Linked DNA regions of Homo sapiens. The protein of the gene in region 1 interacts with the protein of each later gene in a pairwise test. Each region holds a gene or a part of one and is shown on either strand. Other genes may lie near its edges.

Region 1 (7,750 bases):
GGTGGCGCCTGCCTGTAATCCCAGCTACTGGGGAGGCTGAGGCAGGAGAATCGCTTGAACCTGGGAGGCGGAGGTTGCGGTGAGCCAAGATCGCGCCATTGCACTCCAGCCTGTGCAACAAGAGTGAAACTCTGTCTTAAAAAAATAAGAAAAGAAAAACTGAGGCCTAGGGAGGGAAGGAAGGAAGGGGACTTACAACCCACTGTCCCACAGCGAGTCAGGGACACGTGTCTCACTGCAGGGAAGATCAGGAAGGCTCTGGTACATTGTTGAGTCCCCCAGGCTGGGTGTTGGGGGTGCAGGAGAGCCCAGGTCATCCCAGCCCACACCTAACTTAAAATGAGCCACAGAGAGGCATGCAGTGGAGTGACCTGTGCAGTCAGAATGGCGTGTGGCACTCAGGAGCAGGTTATGGTTCTGAAGGGTCCAGCCAGAGGCCTCCAGAAACAGTGAGAATGGTGGTAGAGTGCCCAAGTACCAGGCCAGGCACTCACTCTGCCCGTGGTCCCATTTTACGGAAAAGGAAACTGAGGCACAGATGTGTTAAGTCCCTTGACCAAGGTCGTGTGTCCAAGGCTCTGCTGCAGTTGCTTGTGTCCCACCAGACATAGTTTGATTATCTGGAAGTGGTGACTGCCCCCCAAGGTGCACTGGGGTTGCACCTGTCTTCCTGCCCCACCGCACCCTTGTGTTCCCCCACTGAATTCCTAGTGTCCCCAACCCACTCTGACCTGGGGTCTCTTGTTTGCTGCAGTCTCAGAGGAGCAGTGCCTGTACCAGATCTACATTGATGAGTTGTACGGAGGCCTCCAGAGACCCAGCGAAGATGAGAAGAAGAAGTGAGTCGGGGTCTGGGGTGCAGGGGGTTGAGGAGGCAGGAGGGCTGGGAGCCCCAGCCAGGCATGGCCTCTTCCATCCTGTCCACCAGGGTCTCCCCGAAACCAAGGATGGTGTTCAGCACACAGTCAGTGCTCAATTAATAACTGTGTAGAGGAAGAAGCCCTGTCAGGGGGCCCCGGCTTGCCGAGGGCTCTGCGTTACATTTTCAGCTTGGGAAGTGGTGGGAGGTGCAGGCCCTGTGGTGAGACAGCCCTGGGTTTGAGTCCTGGCTGTGAGGCCCTGAGTGGGAATTGTCTGAGCCTTGCTGTGCTTCCCTGTAAAATGGGGCTGGCAGGAGGCCCTACTGCCTGGAGTTGGGAGGCATGCAGGAGATGGGGCTTGTGAAGTACCTATTCCAGCACCTGCCATGTAGTGAGCTTGCAGTCAGCCCTAGCTGATGTCACTCTGGAGAGAGGCTTCTTAAAGCCGCGTCCCTCAAGGAGTAGCTGGGGAGACCCGGGCCTTATCCTGGAGCAGCTGCCTCTGAGGAGCAGTGGCCGAGCAGTCTCACTTCTCTCTTCTCCACCTCAGTCTGATGAGTGCAGGCCTCCCGCCCTCACACACGCTATTCCCTCTGCAGGGCTTAGCTCTCCTCCAGGCCAGCTGCTGTTGCCCTGGTGCACGGTAGCCTGGAGCCCTGGCTCGGGGCTGGGCAGCTCCCTCAGTGACACCTTCCCTCCTGCTACCCCTGACTGCTTGCCGCCTTCCTCCACTGGGAGGGGTCCCATGGGACTGTACTGGGAGCTTCTTGGAGACTTCAGCCCTCGTCCACGGCCCCAGCCTCAGGATCCTGCTCAGGCCCTGCTCTGTTCAGGGCAAAGCTGGGGCACCTGGCTGCTCAGGAGGACTCTGGGCTGTGCCCTTGTGGGACTCATGGTCTAGGCGGGAGACAGACCTTCCCCAACAGAGATGACCCAACAAAGGCAGGGCTGGGGAGCTCAGGACAGTGCTGACCCACCCTAGGGTACCAGTCAAGGACTTCTTGGCAGGTGGGGCCCTAGAGCTCAGATGTGGAGGAAGAGGGAGGAGCTGGGTGTGGGCAGGAGCAGAGGGTCCTAGGCTGAGGGAGAGCCTGAGGGGAGGGGGCCGTGGCACTCGAGACTGGTGTGTGGGGCTAGCCTGGGGCCCTCATCTCCACTGGGCACGGCCCTGGCTTACCAGCTCCCCTTTCTCAGGCTGGCAGAGAAGAAGGCTTCCATCGGTTATACCTACGAGGACAGCACGGTGGCCGAGGTAGAGAAGGCGGCAGAAAAGCCAGAGGAGGAGGAGTCAGCGGCCGAGGAGGAGAGCAACTCGGACGAAGATGAGGTCATCCCCGACATCGGTGGGGTCCCCTCTCTGCCCTCCCCACCTGCAGTCCCTGGGCATCGTTTCTGTGTCTCGTCCCTCACCCTCTGTGGGGCACCCCGTGCTTACGAACCGTGTCTCTCTCCCTACCCCGCCCCAGGGCACACCAGCCTCCTGCTGCCCCTGTCTCACTCCTGTCCTCCTCCGTTCCGGCCTTCCTCTGCCTCACTCATCTCTCATTTCTAGGGTGCTATTTCTATGATCTTTTCCCCTCCTAGGTGTTGGCTCCATTCTCCTCCACTTGGGCCGGCCTCTCTCTGCCTTTGCCCCTCTCTCCTGCTCTCTTCCCTCCTCTGGAAAACAAGTGTTCATCCTCTTACAGAGTCAGCCCCCATCCGCCAGGCATCTGTTCACCCTCCTCTCTGCCATTCACCTCCCCTCTGGATTCCCACTGATCAAACCACCCCCAAGTCTCTCTGTTTTTCTCATCCTGGTTCTTACTCCAGCAACTGGCTCTTTTTATTTATTTATTTATTTATTTTTGAGATGGAGTCTTGCTCTGTTACCGGGCTGGAGTGCAGTGGCATGATCTTGGCTCACTGCAACCTCCACCTCCTGGGTTCAAGTGATTCTCCTGCCTCAGCTTCCCAAGTAGCTGAGACTAAAGGCACACGCCACCACGCCCAGCTAATTTTTGTACTTTTAGTAGAGACGGGGGTTTCACCATATTGGTCAGGCTGGTCTTGAACTCCTGACCTCGTGATCCACTTGCCTCGGCCTCCCAAAGTGCTGGGATTACAGACGTGAGCCACCGCGCTCAGCCCAGTAGCTGGCTCTTTATTCACACTCTGTGGAGCCACACATTGACCTCCGCCCAGCCCTCCTTCCTCTGGCTTATCACACGCCCTGCTTCCAAACACCTGTGACCCACACCCTGCCTGCCACCCACCGTGATCTCCAGCCGCCATCTTTCCGCCCCTGTTCAGTCCTCCCTCTCACGTCAACCCCACCACACGCCTCACTCATCCATTCCTCCCTCCCTCCATCCACCCATCCCTCCTTCCTTCCTTGCCTCCATTCCATTCATCCATCCATCCATCCCTGCATCCCTTCATCCATCCCTGCACCCATCCGTCCATCTCTCCCTTCTCTTTCCCTCCCTCCGTTCATCTGCCCCTTCAAGCCCTGTCCCCGAGCTGCCTCTGTCCACTGTGTGTTGTGCTCACCTCTGGCAAGCCCAGTGCCAGCCTAGGGCATGCCAAGATGAGCCAGACTTGATGCCATCCCTTCCTGAAGAATCCCTCAGTCTGGCGGGCGCCCCATCATCCCCGCCTCCTGGAGCACTGCCCCTTCTCCCCTGTCCTCTCGCTCGGCCGTGGCTCCTGACAGCCTTTCTCTTGGTGCAGACGTGGAGGTGGACGTGGATGAATTGAACCAGGAGCAGGTGGCAGATCTCAACAAACAGGCCACGACTTATGGCATGGCCGACGGTGACTTCGTCAGGTGAGGCCTGCCTGCTGACACCCCTACCCATTCTGTGGGCCCCACCCTGGCATCTCACTATTACTCCCGGTATTGACAGCCATCCTGTTTGTGAGCATTTGTGTGCCTGGCCCTGGGCCCAGGACTTTACACATGCAGGTCCCTGAGCCTATGGTGGTCGTGGCCCCACTTCATCTGTGCAGAAACAGGCTGCACCCAAGTCACCCAGCCTGCCCTACTTAGTGCGACCTGGGGCGAATCTGACTCTTCGAAGCTCTGGGGATTCCTAGGCTGGGGGACAGCGCCCTCTAGTGGAGAGGCTTCATTCCCTGGTTATTTATCCTGGCAGTTGCTGGTTGTACCTCTACCCTGAGCCACACCCCCTGCTGAGCTCACAAGACCACACAGAATGGTCCCAGCTCACTGGGCAGTGAACCAGAAACGGAGCCTGAGCATGGCACCCTCTGCCCAGAGCCCTTTGTGGCTCCCACCTCCCTCAGGAACATCCAGTGTCCTCACCATGGCCGAAAGGTCTTACCCATCTGGTCCTCTCAACCGCCACCATCCCCCGCTGCCCAGCCTGCACAGTCTCCTTGCTCCTCAAGTGCAGAGGCCTGGGCCAGCCCCTGGGCCACTCTGTCTGCTGTTCGCTTTGGACGTCTGCAGCTTGCTCCCCCAGGTTTTTCTCTAGATACCCTGTTTTGTGTGGCTTCCCTGAGCTCCCTCTTGAAAACTGCAGCTTCCTCTGCCTTTGCTCTACCATCTAATGGACCACACATTTTATTCCCTTGCTCATTATCTTCTCCCCTAGAATGTAAGCCCGTGCAGGTGAGGATTTCTGTTTTTTTTTTTCAGTGCTCAGTTCTTGATACCTAAGATAGCACCTGGCACACAGAGGGTGCTTGATAAGTGGCATTGAATGAAAGATACCTCAGGCTGGCGTGGGGTGACTCAGGTCCCTCACTTTCTCTGATGACTCAGTCTGTGTCCTCCTTACCCTGTGGCCTGCCCCATCCTCCACCCTAATTCTCACCCACCTCTATAGGATGCTCCGGAAAGACAAGGAGGAGGCAGAGGCCATCAAGCATGCCAAGGCTCTTGAGGAGGAGAAGGCCATGTACTCGGTGAGGTCTGGGCTGGAGTGGAAGGGGACAGGGGTGTGTCACAGGGAGGGCACCCCCTCACCAACCTGGCACCCACCCTACTCCAGGGACGCCGCTCTCGACGCCAGCGGAGAGAGTTTCGGGAGAAGCGGCTGAGGGGTCGCAAGATCAGCCCACCCAGGTAGGGCTTCTCCCTGAACCCCCACCCTGCTGGCATCTGGGGGAGGAGAGCAGGGGCTTAGGGCCTGAGAAAGCTCTTTGGAGGCAGGCATTTGACTTGAGAAAGGAGTCTTTCTAGTGGGGCGATGCATGGCCATCGTGAAGGTTTAGAGGTAGGAACGGCCTTGAGGGCCATGTGGACTCCTTTCCTTGCCAGCCCCTCCCCTCACCCTACTGGACTGGGGGCCCTTGCCAGACTCCCAGGAGCCCATGCACAGGCGGCATAAGGCTCTCACCAAGGCGGCAGAGAGGGCACAGGCTTTGCCCTGGACTCTCACCCAGTTCTGCTGCTTGGCTTCTTCCTGTGTCGGAGTTTGGACAAGTGACTTCCCGAACTCTCTGAGCTTCAATTTTTTCCTTTGGAAAACAAGGCATTATCACCTACCTGGAGAGAGGGCTGGGCAGTCCCCACAGGGAGGTCTTGGGACAGGTTTGGATGAGGCAGGCTGGCTTGGAGAGGAAAGCCCAGCCTGGGTCAGGAGGCCTTGAGGAGAGGCCCTGTGCAAACCCATGCCTCTTTTTGCCACATCTCTTAAAGGAGAGTGACTGAGAGTTCCTGTAAGGCTTAAACAACTTGTAGGTTCAGCGGTTGGTATCGGAAACATTCCTTAAAGAATAGCACCAATCGTCATTGCTGTCAGCGGTGGCACAGAGGCACACAGAGGGTAGTGCAGGAACGCCCAGGCTGGGTGGCCATAGGGCCTGGGTTTGGATCCCAGTTTCCTCCTTTATGAGCTACGTAATGCTGGACAAGTGACTTCACCTCTCTGGGCCTCAGTTTCCTCAGCTGTGATAGTCTCTCTTTTTTTTTTCTTCCCCCAGAGACAGGGTCTTATTCTGTCACCCAGGCTGGAGTGCAGTGGTGTAATCACGACTCACTGCAGCCTCAAATTCCTAGGCTTAGGCGATCCTCCTACCTCAGTCTCCTTAGTAGCTGAGATTACTGGTATGCGTCACCACGCCCAGCTAATTAAAATAAAAAATACTTAGTAGAGATGGGGTTTTGCGGTGTTGCCCAGGCTGGTCTCAAACTCCTGGGTTCAAGTGATCCTCCCACCTCAGCCTCCCAGAGTGCTGGGATTACAGGCGTGAGCCACCGCACCCAGCCTATTTTAATCTTATCATCATCATCATCATCATCATCATTAGTAAGCCCGGACCCAGTGAGAGCCAGAGACAAGGATTGGGAGGAGGGATGCTTTCATTCTAGGGTCAGGAGGCCAAGCAGAACCAGAGCTGCTGAAGTCCAAGTTCCTCAGAGTCATGATGGGTCTAGGACATTGTAGGGTGGGGCTTAAGTTCATGCTTTGGACAGATCTGAGGTGGGGGTGGGTGGAGGAATTAAGGGGAGGCCCCCAACCTGGTCAGCAGCCCCCTCACTGTGCCAGGTACCTAGCTTTGGGTCCTCAGGTTGGCGGGCTTATCCCAAATTCATGACTGCTGAGATCTTAAGCCCTAATTTGTCCCACCCCATTCTTTTCTCTGTAGCTATGCCCGCCGAGACAGCCCCACCTATGACCCCTATAAGCGGTAAGTTGCTCTGGAGGACCAGGGAATAGCAGACAGGGAGCCTCCTGATGGGGACAGGGGTGCTGAGGAGGGGATGGGAGGTTCACCCTGCTAGGCCACCCCAAGATCACAGACTGCATGATATGTTCTGGGTCTGAATCATTTTTGTGTTTTCCAGATCACTGTCTTGTTTTCCCAGTTTTAAATAAAATTTTTTTTTTGAGACGGAGTCTCGCTATGTCGCCCAGGCTGGAGTGCAGTGGCACGATCTTGGCTCACTACAAGCTCCGCCTCCCAGGTTCACGCCATTCTCCTGCCTCAGCCTCCTGAGTAGCTGGGACTACAGGTGCCCGCCACCAGGCCTGGCTAATTTTTTGTATTTTTAGTAGAGTTTAGTAGGGTTTCACCGTGTTAGCCAGGATGGTCTCAATCTCCTGACCTCGTGATCCACCCACCTCAGCCTCCCAAAGTGCTGGGATTACAGGCGTGAGCCACCACGCCCGGCCAATAAAATTTTCTTTATCTTTGAAGCTTCTTTATTTTATTTTTCTGATTTAAATACAGTGCAGCCTTGTGGTAAAAATGACCAAATATGGCAAAACAGTGTGACTGAGAAATCAAGTCACTTTAATCTCAATTTCCAGAAGTGGCCAGTGGGAAATAACGGGCACTCAGTAGCACCGCTGGGCACAGGTCGTTGTCTCGTGGATGAAAGAGTGGTTGGAGAAGGGATTTTGTGAGGGACCAAGCTCAGTCTGATCCCAGTCCCCCTCATCCAAGCTCCATAGCTCTCTGAAGCCCAGTTCCCTCTTCGGAATGGGGGTGGGAATGGGATCTTCCTCATGGGGCTGTGGGTCGAGGTTAGATGAGATAAGGTGTTGAATGGCTTCTGGGGAAATAAAAGGTGTAGGTTAGTGCTCCATACATGGGAGTGTCAGGAATATCAGATACTTTCTTTTTATTTTTAAAATTTTATATATTAAAAAACACGTTTGTTTTTTTTTTCTTTAAAATATTGAGATGGGGCTCACCATGTTGACCAGGCTGGTTTTGAAGTTCTGGCCTCAAGCAGTCCTCCCACCTGGGCCTTCCAAAGTGCTGGGATTACAGGCATGAGCCATCACACCTGGCCACTTTGTTTTTATTTTACTAAAATAGAATTGCACCACACTCAGTGTTTTAGAACTTGCTTTTTCCTCCCAGATTATCCATGTATCTTTTGAGTAAAACTTTTCTGTGTTTTGTACAGAGATCTGCTTATCTTTTTTTTT
Region 2 (7,375 bases), on another chromosome or scaffold:
TGGCTTGTTCGTTAGTGTTTGTCACACCGGCAATTTATTTGACTCTCTGAAGCTCACAGCCCCTCCCCTCCATCTCATCCTTCCAATCTCAACTTAAACATTCTTTTCATTGAGAACTTGAGTTAAGCCTCATGGGTGTGCCTGTGGCTGGCAGTTTTCTATTGTAGATCGTCCACTGGACTGCAGGTTCCTTAAGCAGAAGAACAGTACCTTACCGAAAAACCTCAATGCTAGGGCGTGGTCAGACACCTTGGATTTGCATCCTGGCTGTGCTGTGTTCCAGTTGTGTGATCTTAGCTATGTCCTTAACCATTCAGTTTTCTCGTCTATTTCTCACGGTTATGAAGATTCAATGAAGCTGTATATAAAGTCCTTAGCAACAGAGTTACAGTATATGTAGTCATGCACCACATGATGGCGTTTCAGTCAACGACAGACCTTACACATGACAGTGGTGCCATAAGATTATCATGGAGCTGAAAAATTCCTGTCGCTTAGTGACATAATAGTTGTTCGTTAAGTCAAATGCATTACTCGTGTTTGTGAGTAGGTGTAAACCAACCTACTGCACTGCCAGTCATGTAAAAGTATAGCATATACAATGATGTTCAGTGCCTAACACTTGATGATAAATGACTATGTTACTGGCTTATGTATTTACTATACTCTTTATCATTATTTTATTGTATTTTATTTTTCTGAGACAAGGTCTTGCTGTTGCCCAGGCTGGAATGCAGTAGTGCAATCAGGGCTCACTGCAGTCTCCATCTCCTGGGCTCAAGCAATCCTCCCACCTCAACCTCCCAAGTAGCTGGGACTACAGGCCCTCACCACCACACCTCACTAATTTTTGTATTTTTGTAGAGACGGGGTTTCTCCATGTTGCCCAGGCTGGTCTTGAATTCCTATGCTCAAGCAGTCCTCCTGCCTCAGCCTCCCAAAGTGCTAGAATTACAAGCATGAGTTCCCGTGCCTGGCCTTATCATAATTTTAGAATGTACTCCTACTTAACAACAAGAACAAAAAGTTAACTGTAAAATAACCTTAGGCAGGTCCTTCAGGAGATATTTCAGAAGAAGGCAGTGTTGTCATAGGAGATGACAGCGCCATGTGCGTTATTGCTCTTGCAGACCTTCCAGTGGGACAGCATGTGGAGGTGGAGACTGTGATTGATGTTAATGATCCTGACCCTGTGCGGGCCTGGGCTCATGTGTGTGTTTGTGTCTTAGTTTTTAACAAAAAAGTTTAAAAAGTTAAAAAAAGAAATAGGAAAAACCTTATGGAATAAAGATATATAGAAAGAAAATATTTTTGTGCAGTTGAACATTGTGTTTTAAGCTAAGTGTTATTACAAAATAGTCTAAAAGTTTTTAAAATTTTTAAAGTTTATAAAGTAAAAAAGTTCCAGTAAGCCAAGGTTAATTTATTATTGATGAAAGAAAAATATTTTTAATAAATTTAGTGTAGTCTGGCCAGGCACAGTGGCTCATGCCTGTAATCCCAGCACTAACTAAATAACTAAAGCACAGTGGCTCATGCCTGTAATCCCAGCACTAACTAAATAACTAAATAAAATAAATGTATTGTAGCATAAGTGTATTGTGTTTACAAAGTGTTCAGTAATGTCCTAGGCCTTCACATTCACTCACCACTCACTCACTGACTCAACCCAGAGCAACTTCCAGTCCTGCATGCTCCACTCATGGCCAGTGCCCTATCCAGTTGTGTCACTTTTTATCGTTTATACAGTACTGTACCTTTTCTATGTTTAGACACACAAATACGTACCATTATGTTACAGTTGCCTACAGTATTCAGTACAGTAGTATGCTGTACAGATTGTAGCCTAGGGGCAATAGGCTATACCATATGGCCCGGGTGTGTAGGATGTTGTACTGTCTAAGTCTGTGTAAGTACACTCTGATATTCACACAGCCATGGAACTGCCTAATGAGGCATTTCTCAGAACGTAATCCCATCCTTAAGCAATGCATGACTGTAGTTAGTACTTTATAAGTAATGACATACAGAATTAAATATGGCAGGGACTGAGGAATTTGCTCAAAACTAAAATAAGATGTTTGAACTTAGCCCACCATCCAGATTTCTAGGAATAGGAAGTACTGTAAAACCAGACTCCTGAAATGAGAAGAATTTAGTTGTTGCACCGTGGCTCGCCCAGCCCTAAGCCCTTAATGTGGCTCTAAGGCCACATAACCCATGCTCTGGCACCTGCTTCACTTGTTCTCCAGGCGGGACTCACTTCACCCGGTTCCCCCTCTTAGTAGTAGCCTCCTACTGAATTGAAGGAAGTCCTGTTCTCTCACCTTCAAGCTTTTGCACTTCCTGGTCCTTCTGCTGGGCGCTGCCCCTCACCACCCCACAAGCCTCACTCCCATCTTTTCATTAGGCTCCAGTCACAGTTCAAAGGCCTTTCTCAGAGTGACCTTCCTTAACTCTTCAGGGTAAGTTAATTTACTTCTTTCTTATCACACTTGACATTATTAGCTTCTTAAGGTCTGTATTCCTGGCTATACAGTTTCCTGATAGAAGCTTTTGTAAGTTTCTAAACCAACAGCTTAGAAGAAATTAGGGGTTTCTTTAATGTTACCTTGACATCTGGGACCAGCAAATCTTATATTTATTAAAAGACTCTTACGTTTAATGTAAACATTACTTCTGGTTGTAAGGAAAATACCAGGAGGTTCTGTTCCCACTTATACTTGTGTAAAACATGCTGTAATTTTCAGTCTTTTTTTTTTTTTTTTTTTTTTTTTTTTTTTTTTGAGACAGAGTCTTGCTCTGTCCCCCAGGCTGGAGTGCAGTGGCACGATCTCGGCTCACTGCAGGCTCCACCACCTGGGTTCACGCCATTCTCCTGCCTCAGCCTCCGGAGTAGCTGGGACTACAGGCGCCCGCCACCACGCCCAGCTAATTTTTTGCATTTTTAGTAAAGATAGGTTTTCACCGTGTTAGCCAGGATGGTCTCGATCTCCTGACCTCGTGATCCGCCTGCCTTGGCCTCCCAAAGTGTTGGGATTACAGGCGTGAGCCACTGCGCCCAGCCAATTTTCGGTCTTAATGGTAGTAATCCTGGCTGGGCGCAGTGGCTCACGCCTGTAATCCTAGCACTTTGGGAGGCCAAGGCGAGCTGAGGTCAGGAGTTCAAGACCAGCCTGACCAACATGAAGAAATCCCGTCTCTACTAAAAATACAAAAGTTAGCCGGGCATGGTGGCACATGCCTGTAATCCCAGCTACTCGGGAGGCTGAGGCAGGAGAATCACTTGAACCCGGGAGGTGGAGGTTGCGGTGAGCCGAGATGGTGCCATTGCACTCCAGCCTGGGCAACAAAAGCAAAACTTTGTCTCAAAAAAAACAAGATAGTATCCTAAAAGTACATGAGATGAGATTGCATTAATTCATGAAAACGCCTTTGTCTGTCTTTCCTGTCACCCTGTCTTTCTCTCAGCTGCTGCTGTTTCTCCCCTACTCCAAGACTAAATATTAGACCAGAGTCTTCTGCTGTTGCTGGATAGTGTTAGATTCCCATGTCCTGTTCTAATTTTAAAAATAAAGTCTCTCTTCAGAAAAAATTTCCTACATTCTAGTTTTTAGTTAGCATGCCTTGTTGATAAAAATTAAATTGGTGCTGTTTTCAGTAGTAGAATTGAGTGTATTTGGACATAAAGGTGGTAAAACTTTTTTTCTGACTTGGAGAATGTTCTTCATTATTCTGAGTCAGGTTTTACTGTAATTGAACGAAGACATGGTTTTTTGGTTTTGTTTTTCTTTTTTTTTGAAACAGAGTCTCGCTCTGTCACCCAGGCTGGAGTGCAATGGCACAATCTCAGCTTACTGCAACCTCCTCTTTCTGGATTCAAGCAATTCTCCTGCCTCAGCCTCCTGAGTAGCTGGGATTACAGGCATGCGCTACCACACCCAGCTAATTTTTTTGTATTTTTAGTAGAGATGGGGTTTCACATGTTGCCCAGGCTGGTCTCAAACTCCTGATCTCAGGTGATCCTCCCACCTCAGCCTCCAAAAGTGCTGGGATTACAGGCGTGAGCCACCGCGCCCGTCCGAAGACATGGGTTTTAATTACACTTGCCTTTTCTTAGCTGTGCACATAATTGTCCTTACGCTGACTTAGGGGTTGTTGGTGTATGCCCAGAGTTGCTTGTCTGCTGTCTGGATAGCCCCTGTCAAGTACAGCGAAGGGAGTGAAGCCTTTGACCCTTGGAGCCTGGGAGTCTGAGTCGGAGCTATGCTCAGTTCTCCCCACAGGGGTCTCCCTCTGCCTAATTTCTGTCTGGGAACCCAGCCCTTAACCCAGTGCAGGAACTTTCCTGCTGAAATGGACAGCTCTAATGGTTTAATGTAAATTAGAGCATGTGTCATTAAAGCTAGGATGCCAGATGGCTGAGGGTTCAGCTGCCTGCCAGGCTGAGTGGGTGGGGCCAGAAAAATGAAAGTTGGGGGAGGGAATGGATACAACTCATGTTATTTTTAAAGCAGTCATAGAAATATACAGCATCCACCAGCTCCCTCCCTATCCCAGTAGTAGTATTTTTTTTTTCCCTCAGCTTGACCCACCTCCCTGAGGCTTACATTGCGGGGAGGGAGAGAAATCGGTGTTCTTTATTAGTTGCCCTAGCAACCATGGAAAGCCTGGGAGAGTGATTGTAAGACTGGCCTGAAGCTTTGGTCACCTCTGTTGTCTGCAGAGGCAGAGAACCATTATGATCTGTAATTGCCAGTAACTGGATTCTGAAGCTCTTTGAGTATCTCCAGCTCATGGGCAGGGGAGGGGAAATTAATGAAATAAAACAATATTGGCTTTAGATTTTTATTTTTATTTTATTTTTTTTGAGGAATAAAGCACTCATAGGCCACACTTTGATAGTGGGAATGTGTCATGAATGAAAAAGAATTAACAAATCAAAAACAGTCGGCTCTTTGTGATCTAGAGAAGGACAGAACATGTTAAAACCTGCTTCCGCCATGAGCAATAAATGCTGAGCAGTTCATTTTATCTTCATCCCAAAGCCACGCCTGCCCAGTGACCTCTGAACTGGAAGGAGCTAAGGAAAGGACGTTGATACTTTCTGAGACATGTATCTTCCTGTATGCTGTTTTCAGAAGCTGGTTTTAGGAGACGGTTGCTTTCCTGGAAGACCTTTATAATATTAGGCAATGACAGCCACATGGCCAGGGTGGTGGGGAGCCTTTGCCCCAAATTGCCTGTCGCCTCTCCCCTTTGATCCTAGTTTTAGAGCCTAGAGAAGAGGCTTTGGGAAATTACCCTCTAATGCACATATCTGATTGATCGCCCTTACCACCTCCACGCTACTCTTTTCCAGTGAGTTTGTATTTGCAGCCCTTTAAACTTAATAAAGGAGAAAAATCACAATTCACTAACAAATCCACTTAATTTGATTTCAAACCTCTGGAGACTTTTCACATGGGGATACTTGTGTTTTTCTTCATCGGGGGTTAAACAGTCTCTTGGGGAAAAGCTCTGTTTAGTTTGTCTTACCACCAGCCAGGTTCAAAATCTAGAGAGACTGATGGGCATTCCTTCAACAAAGTTGCCTTGACCCCTCCAAGTTCCCTTGTTTTGTGGAATACATTCATTCATTTTGTAAAACTTAAATTTGTGAGTGTGTTTGTTATCTAGTAACACTGGGAGAAAAAGAAATCTCTTTAGTAATTTATTGAAAATCCAACTAAAAGTTAGCTTGCCTCTGGGCAGAAGTGCAGGAATACTACAGTCTATCCAGCTTCCAGCCTGCATTGGCTTCTGTGTGCATTGTACGGCTTTGTTTTCTTCTGTGAAGACCTGAATAGGTCATATCTGCTGGAGTTCCAGGGAAGTCGTAAACTTTGAGATGGGCAGAAGGCAGATTCCCTAACATTTTCTCCCTGTGAGATCTGGCTGGTCTTTCTGGAACTGAGGGAGGCCTCTTGTTGACACTGGCCAGAGAGAGCTTGAGTGATGTGAAATTTGAGGGCATGCTTTAAATAAGGGTGGATCAATAGCAACATGTTGCTTTTTAGCAATAGCAGTTTTCAGGCCCAAGTTACTTCTTAATCCTGTCAATTTAACTGTCTATTTGCTCTTTGCAGTTTGTCCCGTTTTAAAGAATGGTTATGTTATTGAGAATAATTAGTGGTGTGTTATAAAAGTAGTGTTTGCATCTTGTTGGAATACTGCCAGCTCTTATCAGTAGGGCTGCTCGCATTAGTTGGAAATGATTTCTTCATTAATTCCTTCTTCACTGAATCTGCTTGGTTTTCCACAGAAAATACAGGAGGAATATCGCCACTTAGGTTGGGAACATGAGATGGCGAGTGAGGTGGGCACTTAGGTTGGGAACATGAGATGGCGAGTGAGGTGGGCACTTAGGTTGGGAACAGTAGATGGCGAGTGAGGTGGGCACTTAGGTTGGGAACATGAGATGGCGAGTGAGGTGGGCACTTAGGTTGGGAACAGTAGATGGCGAGTGAGGTGGGCACTTAGGTTGGGAACATGAGATGGCGAGTGAGGTGGGCACTTAGGTTGGGAACAGTAGATGGCGAGTGAGGTGGGCACTTAGGTTGGGAACAGTAGATGGCGAGTGAGGCGGGCAGTAGTGGCGTATTCTGCACAGACCCAGGCCTTTGTGCTCTTAATCTCCTTGGAAAGGGGCCCAGAATTCAAAGCAGGAGGGCATTGAACATTGCCAGCTTTGTTTGAGAATCGTTTCAATGTGACGTTTTGTGTCTTGAGAGCCTAAGAAATGCTCCATTGGCAGGGATTGGGGTCCCGTCTAGCCCAGTATTCTGTCTCTGACAATGGGCACCCATTTGTGGAAGCATTCTTCATGCTGGCGGCCCTGTGGGCTTTGTGATATGCCCCAGATCTCTGGCTTCCTATAATAGTCCACGGGGGATGTGTTATCCAGGAATTTTTAAAACCCTCCTTGAACCTATTCATATGTGCCAGCTCTTAGGGTGACAGATTCCAGAAGTCAGCAAATATTTGAACGCTTAGTTTATGGCTAGCACTGTGCTAAGCATTGTCGAAGATAGAAATGATGCTTCATAACTGGTCTTGGCTCTTGCTTGAGCTTATTCTTTTTTAAGGAGACAAGACTTGGTTGCAGTTGTGGAAAAGGTGGGCAGTGACATCAGATGTCACCTTTAGAACACCAGGCAGACCATGAGTGGATCAGACTCACAGTGACAGAGCTCACAGAGACTAATGTCTAAAAACAGAAACATATTATTAATAATTTATGTTGAAAAATAAAACTACCAGACCCAACACTGATTTATCCCCATATGCAAGTCTAATAGCCAAATCGTAATCAGCAGGCTGATGAGTGAACAAG

The links.
Region 2: the proteins of CLASRP (region 1) and CFAP20 interact in binary tests that used the Homo sapiens proteins (3 or more experiments, as listed by UniProt).

What each region holds. Positions count from the first base shown.
Region 1 is NC_000019.10:45,055,696-45,063,445, forward strand, and holds part of CLASRP (CLK4-associating serine/arginine rich protein), read left to right. Parts: intron 1-754; coding exon 755-839; intron 840-2,054; coding exon 2,055-2,203; intron 2,204-3,572; coding exon 3,573-3,669; intron 3,670-4,693; coding exon 4,694-4,772; intron 4,773-4,858; coding exon 4,859-4,932; intron 4,933-6,458; coding exon 6,459-6,500; intron 6,501-7,750. UniProt on the Homo sapiens protein: Probably functions as an alternative splicing regulator. May regulate the mRNA splicing of genes such as CLK1. May act by regulating members of the CLK kinase family.
Region 2 is NC_000016.10:58,119,007-58,126,381, reverse strand, and holds part of CFAP20 (cilia- and flagella-associated protein 20), read left to right. Parts: intron 1-7,375. UniProt on the Homo sapiens protein: Cilium- and flagellum-specific protein that plays a role in axonemal structure organization and motility. Microtubule inner protein (MIP) part of the dynein-decorated doublet microtubules (DMTs) in cilia axoneme, which is required for motile cilia beating.